Regions from separate parts of the Homo sapiens genome. Here regions 2 and 3 are each linked to region 1. The links come from fine-mapping of genetic effects on gene expression. A gene starts in region 1. Each other region holds a variant in brackets. All regions are shown on one strand. Distances are from middle to middle.

Region 1 (2,752 bases):
AGGCCCAACCCAGTTTAGAGAGGAGACTGAAGGCTAAAGGAGGAAGGTTTCCCAGGAAAAAAAAAATTAGGATTTGAAAGTTGATGCTATCTTTGATAATTTGGAACAACGTAAATAAGTAGAAATGGCAGGGCCGGGCGCCGTGGCTCACGCCTGTAATCCCAGCACTTTGGGAGGCTGAGGCGGGAGGATCACCTGAGGTCGGGAGTTCGAGACCAGCCTGACTTAATATGGAGAAACCCCGTCTCTACTAAAAATACAAAATTAGACGGGCATGGTGGCTCATGCCTGTAATCCCAGCTACTTGGGAGGCTGAGGCAGGAGAATCGCTTGAACCTGGGAGGCGAAGGTTGCGGTGAGCCTAGATAGCGCCATTGCACTCCAGCCTGGGCAAGCCGAGATAGCGCCATTGCACTCCAGCCTGGGCAACAAGAGTAAAACTCCTTCTCAAAGAAAAAGTAGAAATGGCTGGGAACCGTGGCGCATGCCTGTAATCACAGCACTTTGGGAGGCCGAGGCAGGAGAATTGCTTGAGGCCAGGAGTTCCAGACCAGCCTGGGCAACATAGCAAGACCCTGTCTCTGTTTTAAAATTTAAAAATTAGCCAAGCATTGGGTGTGCGCCTGTGGTCCCAGCTACTCGGGAGGCTGAGGTGAGAAGATCGCTTCAGCCCGGGAGGTCGAGTCTGCAGTGAGCTAGGATCGCACTGCTGGGCCACAGAGCAAGACCCTGTCTCAAAACAAACAAAAAATAAATTCATGTATGTTAGCAACAATTACTATTTAATTTAAAACTTCCCCATTCCGATTCCATCCTCACCAAGCACGTTCCTTCGCCTGCAGCTTCGGTCTAGAGCCTGAGCGAGCCGAGCTGCGGATGCCAGGGGCTGGGTGGACTCCGCAGCTAAGCTACTGTAAAACACGCACCTGCTTCTACCGCGGGTGTACACATGGTTTGCCAGGGTGTGCGCGTCTTCCCAAGGGGTCTGGGGACCAAATTCCAGCTCCCGCCATCGGGAGGCACGGTAAGAGACCGTAGGGGACACAATCCCGAGCACCGCAGATGCCGAGGTCTCCGCTGCGCTCCAGTCTGTCAACAGAGGCTTCAGGACCGCGGGGTCCCTTCAAATGCCCCGCCAGTCCCAGGCCAATCACCGCGCAGCTTCTTCCGGGATCGTCGCCAATCATCGGCCGTTGCGTATTGCGGGTACAGAGGGGTAAGTGAAGCTTCGGGCCCTTACATCTTTCTTGAAGGCAAGAAGCCTCTCCTCTACTTCCCAGACACCCCGCCTCCCCCACTAGAAAAAGCAGCCGAAGCGGCTTTATTTAAGGGCAAGTGGGACGATGAGGCCAGAGAAGTCAGAAAGGCTCCATATTTGATATGGTCAAATAATGGCGCCCTTAAGAGCAGCCTGTGACAATTGAAGGGTGGTCGCCATATTTTCAGAAGGCACCTTCCGGGTCCCTTAACCCGGGTGTCTATGTCCAAGCGGCCATGAAGTGAATAAACACTGAGGAATTATATTTGTCCCTATCAGAATCCTCGAATCCCTAGCAGCCAGTCCCTGCTACTTCGGTTGCCTCGGCTGCGTTCGGACGCCACGGCTGGGCGGGGCCGCCCTTCCTGTGGACAACGACAGCTGAGGCCGGGAGCGGGGAGGCGGCGGCTCCAGGGACCTGGCGGCCGCCGATCGGGGCTGCGAGGCCCCATGGCGCCGCCCCCAGCCCCGCTCCTGGCGCCGAGGCCCGGGGAGACCCGGCCTGGTTGCAGGAAGCCCGGGACTGTGAGCTTCGCGGACGTGGCCGTGTACTTCTCCCCGGAGGAGTGGGGCTGTCTGCGGCCCGCGCAGAGGGCTCTGTACCGGGACGTGATGCAGGAGACCTACGGCCACCTGGGCGCGCTCGGTGAGAGCCCCGGGTCCGAGCCCCCTCCTCCTTCACCGGGTTCACAGGGGAGATGATGTAGAAGGGCCGAGAGGACTGTGAGCCCTAATCCCGCACTCTTGCACCAACACCAGCAGCCACCTCCCGTTCCCAGGGCTTCAGGTACCCCCTCGGGAGTGTTTTCACCCGCATCCATTTCATTCAGGCAGCAGCACTGCAGCCCCTTCCAGGTTGAGTATAAGCTCCGAGGGGGTGCCCTCAGCCTGGAGGGGAATGCCATCTTCCCACGATGGCCTCTCAGGCCCGCGCTGTGATCCCTGTTCTCTCCCAGGATTCCCAGGCCCCAAACCAGCCCTCATCTCTTGGATGGAACAGGAGAGTGAGGCTTGGAGCCCCGCCGCCCAGGATCCTGAGAAGGGGGAAAGACTGGGAGGAGCTCGGAGAGGTGAGGGATAGTCCCGGGTCCCCCCACTTGGTTTTCCAGGGCTTCCTGTCTAGCAGAGTTTCTTTTCAGGCCCCCACTTCCAGCATCCCTAAAGAAATTCAACTGTGTTGGGTACTAGAGGAGTAAAGAAGGCAGACCTGGTACAAAGTTTTCAGAACATGGGACAGCGGTCCTGTGAGGACTGGGAGCCCAGTCCAACCAGGCACTCCAGCCTGGGTGACAGAGTGAGACTCCGTCTCAAAAATAAATAAATAAATAAATAAATAAATAAATAAATAAATAAATAATAGCCCCTGCTTCCTGAGCACTTCCTAAGTGCTTAACATGCATCTACTCAGCTAAACCAGTAACGCTGTGAAGTCAAAAGCCATTATTATTCCCATTTGATGCATAAGGAACCAAGGCTCAGATAAGGCACTTTTAG
Region 2 (2,752 bases), 550 kb before region 1:
CTGGCTGGTCCAGACTCCTCTCACACCCACCCGCCCCACCCCCGATATCCCAGACATCCCTGATGTCCAAGTTTGGACCTTTTGCCAGATGAACAGGGTTAGGATCAGGATGGGGCTTCAGCTGCACGATGGGGGGCAATCCAGCTCTGCCAAAGTTGTGAGACTCAAATGAAATAACAGATTTGCCTTCCAGGCCCAGCGTAAGAACTGTTACTACCTCCCCGATGTTCCTGGACCCCTTTCCTGAGGACCAGACCCTGCCTGCCCATGCGACTGCCCCAGAGGTCCCTCCCACAGGGACAGCGGACTCAAGATGTGCAGAAAGGACCTCATCACTCCTCCCTGCAAACCTGCGCCTCCTCCTGGGTTGCTCATTTTACTGGGAACATCACCCTTGGTCCCAGTGTCCAAGACCCATAACTAGGCTTGCCTCAGACTACTCTCTCTCCCTCGGCCTGGCCAAGTCCTAATACAGTGGATGTCGAGTCTACTTCTGACATCTCTGGAATTGGGCCCTCTCTGGAATTCTCCTCTCTGTCCTGCTCCAGGTAGTCATGGCCCCATCTCAGGTCTGGACAATTTACTAGGCCGCCTCAGACTCCCTGCCTCCAGCCCCAGCCTCCTCATTGCTATCAGCAGCCCCCTTTTAGCGGCCTTCATGCTTCTGCACAAACAGCTCCTTCTACCTGGAGAATGCCCTTCCTTCTCTCACTGCCAGCAGAAAACACTTCCTCAGCCTGGCACGGAGCATGAGTCAGGTGAGTCCATGATGCTTTGTGATCTATCCTTTGTCACTGTTGTTATTGTGCTCTTTCCCATCCTTCAAGGCTTGAGATTCTTACCACCCCCTCCAGGAGGCCTGACTGGATTCTTCCCATCCAGAAAACATTCCCTCCTTCCCAAGTTCAGCGAGAAGTGGTCAACAGGGCAACACTGTCCAAGTATGCCCACCTGGGTTCCTCTATTTTTCAAGTCCTTAGAAAGCAGAGACTAAGAGTCACACCACACTCACAACACATCCTGCTCCTAGGCCAGACCCTGTGGGAGGAACCCAGTACAGCCTGACAATGGAAGGGGGACCCAAGACGGTCCATGACCTACACCAGGGCAGACAAGGCCCTGCCCTGTAGCTGAGAAGGGAGGAAGGAGCCAGTGCTTTACCCAGAACCCCCTCCACAAAGCACTGTGCCTATATGTTTATATGGCCTCATTTAATCCTTTCAGTAACCCTTACATAGAGTGTTATTTCTTTTTTTTTTTTTTTTTTTTT[TG/G]AGACGGAGTCTCACTCTGTTGCTCAGGCTGGAGTACAGTGGCACCATCTCGGCTCACTGCAACCTCCGCCTCCCAGGTTCAAGCAATTCTCCTGCCTCAGCCTCCCAAGTAGCTGGGACTACAGGCACATGCCGCCACATCCAGGTAATTTTTGTATGTTTAGTAGCAATGGAGTTTCGCCATGTTGGCCAGGCTGTTCTCAAACTCCTGACCTCAGGTGATCAACCAGCCTCGCACTCCCAAAGTGCTGAGATTACAGGCGTGAGCCACTGCACCCAGCTGCGTTATTTCAATTTTACAGAGTAGTAAACAGGCAGGGCAAGGTGAGGTCCCTTACCCTCGGGGACTAGTGAGCTGCCATTTATTCCAAGTGGCAAGCACGGCACAGACATGTTTTTTTTTTTTTCTTCTGAGATAGACTCTCACTCTGTCGCCCAGGCTGGAGTGCAGTGGGGAGATCTCAGCTCACCACAACCTCTGCCTTCTGGGCTTAAGTGATTCTCCTACGTCAGCCTCCCAAGTGGCTGAGACTACATGTGCCTGCTACCATTCCCAGCTAATTTATTTTGTTTTTTGAGATGAAATTTTGCTCTTGTTGCCCAGGCTGGAGCAATGGTGCAATCTTGGCTCACTACAACCTCCACCTCCTGAGTTCAAGCGATCTTCCCACCTCAGTGTCCCAAGCAGCTGGGATTACAGGCGCCCACCAGCAAGCCCGGCTAATTTTTTGTATTTTTGGTAGAGATGGGGTTTCACCATGTTGGCCAGGCTGGTCTTGAACTTCTGACCTTCAGATGATCCACCCACCTTGGCCTCTCAAAGTGCTGGGATTACAGGCATGAGCCATAGCCTTTTTTTTTTTTTTTTTTTTGAAATGGAGCCTCGCCCTGTCGCCCAGGCTGGAGTGCAATGGCAAAATCTCACGTCACTGCAACCTCGCCTCCTGGGTTCAAGCGATTCTCCTGCCCCAGCCTCCCAAGTAGCTGGGATTACAGGTGTGCACCATCACACCCAGCTAATTTTTTGTATCTTTAGTAAAGACAGGGTTTCACCATGTTGGCCATGCTGGCCTCCAACTCCTGACCTCGTGGTCTGCCTGCGCCTGGCCTCTTTTTGTATTTTTAGTAGAGACGGGCTTTCACCATATTGGCCAGGCTGATCTCGAACTCCTGACCTCAAATGATCCAATCATCTCAGCTTCCCAGAGTGCTGGGATTACAGGCATGAGCCACTGCACCCAGCCGACATTATTTCATTTTGTTCCTCACAATGAGCCTTTGAAATAAGAGTGCTCATTGTCCCTGTTGTATGAGAGAAAACTGAGGCACAAAGAGGTGAGGTCACTTGCCCAAGGTCACAGAACTGGTACTCAGCAGAGTTGGGCATGGGCCCCTGGTCTGTCCAATTCTGAACCTAACCACTGTAAAGATGAGGAAGAAAGATTTTCCTCCTCACACATCTCTTTAAAACACATTTCCCA
Region 3 (2,752 bases), 500 kb before region 1:
GTACAACTGTCTCCGACCGTAAACCCCTTCACTGAACCTGCCCCCGGAATTCTCACCTCACAAAGCCCCTTTGATCAAAAGTCCCCTCCCCTAGTCAACCACCAATGAAGTCCTCTGACCTCACTCATCTCGTCTGCCAATTTCCTCTCAGGACGCCTACCTCGCACCGGCGGCCCCCTCTCCTTCCCGCCGCGGGCGCGTCAGTTGGGGACCGCGAACAAGAGCGCGCCTGCGCACTGGGACCCTTACCCTAACTGCAGCCGCGCGCCCCAAGGGGTGGCTGTCGGGGGGCTCTCGCGCTCCCACACACGCACACTCAGCCAGGGTTCCCGGGAGGTGGGAGGGAAGGGAAAGAGGGAAAGGAGAAGGGGGGAAGAGGAAGGAGGTAGAGAAAAGAGGGCGCAGCTGGCATGAGCCAGGAGTCTACTCCCAGCTCTACGGACACTTCCTATTGTTACTAGGAAACAGGAAGTGTCCTTAGGTGCAAAAGCTTCCCCGCGAAACTTCCGCTTCGGGAGCACTGCCTGTCCCGCCTCCGAGCCGCAGTTTTACGCAGACACACTTCCGGCGCTAAGTTCTAGGTCTGCACGGCTGACTCCGCCCACGTAGGTCACAACGCGGCGTCTTTGCACGCTAAGCTAGCCACACTTCCGGCAAGAGCAGCTAGAATCGTTCCGGTGCATATTGAATAGGCGCAGAAAGGGAGAAAAAGATTCTACAGCCCTGGCCACAGTACTTTGGTGACACTTTTCGTGGGGCTCTCTGGAGGACTTTTCCCAAGGCAGATGGAGAAAACTTCGTGAAACCCACTCCTTGCTATTAAAGGAAATGTTGTGGAATATAATTGGACTTAGGTTTTGCAGAGCTTGAGCATGGCCTTTTTGTCCTCCCACCTTCTGGTTCTTGAAGACATTGCCGGTGACCTGGCCCCAGACTAACACAAGGCGGGCGTATACCGTCAGCCTGCCTGGCGTCCCCTTGCCTCAGCACACACAGAGACCTCTTGCAAGATGCTTCTCTGCCGCCATAGGCTGGAGGTTCCCCGGGAACTTTCCCTTCCTTCCTAGCTGAGGAAGATCCCTCACTTCCGCTCGCCGCGCCACCGGTCCCACCTCCCCGCCCCCCGCTGGGTCCTAGCGCCGGCCCCTGTTTGGCAGGGTCCGGGCTCCGTCGGTGCGAGGAGCCGACGCCGACGCCACGGAGTCAGCACAAGTCTCATCAGGTAGGAAACGTCGGCGGGAAGCCGCGAGGGCCCCGGGCAGCTCCCACGCGGCCACGATCCGAGCTGGCCTCAGTTTCCCTGCGGGCGCCGAGGGCGGGCCGGGTTGGCCCAGCGCGAGCAGCGCGGGCGGGGCGGGCTGTGAGCGGCCCCGGGCGCATTGCGGGCCCAGCAGGTCCTAGAACCCGCCGGCTGTCTCCGCGGTTCTGGGCTGCGGACACCCAGGCTCGGCCCGCGCGGCTGCTGGCCCGGCGCGGTGTGGTCCCGGGGGTCCTAGAGCCCGCCATGTTTTGGGTTTTTGTCCCGGTCGCGTGGCC[C/T]GCGCTGCAAGATCCCAGGCGCCGGCGGCCCCCTCCCCTGCTGAGGCCCGGCCACCACTCCCGCGGTCCTAGAGAACGCCATCTTGCAAGCCTTTGTCCCTCATTCGGCCTTCCGTCCATTCATTTGTTCATCTCCTCATCCTTCGTTCAGTCCTCCTTGCCACGTCCTCCGAAGCCACGTTTTCTGAGGCTTATAACCGGGGTCCTGCCCTCCAGGGGCTGCCTGGCTGGCGGGGGCGCCGCGTACAGACGGTTGCGAGGAGCGAGGAGCTCCGGGTTTCTGCAACTCTCGGCTCCTCGGCGCGCTTCGTAGGCCCCACCGCCCTTCAAACTCCCACAAACTTAAGGGACCCCATTTTACTGATGAGGAAACTGAGGTCCAGAGCGGCGTGGGGCCCTTACCTCTCTACTGCCATAAAGTATTCCTGAGGGCACTAGGGAAGGGGGTTCTTGAAGGATGTAAAGGGGCTTTCCCGTTGGAGAAGGCAGGCAAGGGCTCCCCGAGCCCAGGAAACTGCATCTAGAGGTGGAGGATTGAGAATTGTGGCTGGAGGTTCGGTCGCTGCCGGGAGGAGGACTCTGTCGCTGGAGCTGAGGCTGGAAAAGTAGGTTGGGATCAGGTTGTGAACTGGCCCGGTAGGAGGCCTAGGATATGATTAGCGCTCACTTCTGCAGGGTTCATCCGCTCACTACGTCACTCCTGGCCGTGAGGCCTGTGTGGTGACTGCTTGTTTAGAGATGGGAAGATTGAGGTGCCTCCTTTTTCTCCTCATCCCTGCCCCAGGGTCCTAGCCTAGGATTTTTGGAAATTGAATCTTTGCTTGCCTAGTGAGACAGCAGAACTTCATCCCCTTCCTAAGCCAGTAGTGAGGCAAAGCAAGGCTTCATCGCCACGACAGGGAGCCCACTGTGGGATATTGGGGCAATAGTTGAGCCTTGTGGAGTTGGAAAGGTGGAGGAATTTAGTTAATAAACAGTTATTGGTGGACATTCTCACAAACTCCTACTGTGGAGGAGGCAGAGGCTACAGACCTGGGTTCAAATTTCATCTGAGGTTGGTTCTTTCCATTTGTTTTGGGTCACCACACAGGGTTCTGGGTGTAGAGGAGGCAGATGATCGGTTTCCTAGCCCTTTGCCAGCCTGGACTCTGGTGCTGGTGATGAAGAATTAACAGCCAAACCATAAGATGTGTAATGCTAGCAAAGCAATAGTCAG

The links.
Region 2: its variant is fine-mapped to the expression of ZNF688 in whole blood (INTERVAL, PIP above 0.99).
Region 3: its variant is fine-mapped to the expression of ZNF688 in whole blood (INTERVAL, PIP above 0.99).

The regions. Positions count from the first base shown.
Region 1 is chr16:30,570,586-30,573,337 of GRCh38, reverse strand. ZNF688 (zinc finger protein 688) reads left to right here and starts at 1,624. Exons shown (of 3, transcript NM_145271.4): 1 at 1,624-1,904; 2 at 2,215-2,328. The coding sequence starts at 1,709. RefSeq lists a silencer at 1,617-1,856 and an enhancer at 2,719-2,752.
Region 2 is chr16:31,124,123-31,126,874 of GRCh38, reverse strand. The region is part of intron 3 of KAT8 (lysine acetyltransferase 8); the gene reads right to left. Among named protein-coding and RNA genes, the nearest start is that of KAT8, 7.8 kb to the right of the region's middle. The variant TG/G (reference allele first, on the strand shown) is at 1,271.
Region 3 is chr16:31,072,129-31,074,880 of GRCh38, reverse strand. ZNF668 (zinc finger protein 668) reads left to right here and starts at 641. Exons shown (of 3, transcript NM_024706.5): 1 at 641-1,222. It overlaps ZNF646 (zinc finger protein 646), which reads right to left and starts at 459. Exons shown (of 3, transcript NM_014699.4): 1 at 250-459. RefSeq lists enhancers at 1-225, 581-720, 226-759, 1,379-1,673, 965-1,765 and a silencer at 1,031-1,490. The variant C/T (reference allele first, on the strand shown) is at 1,537.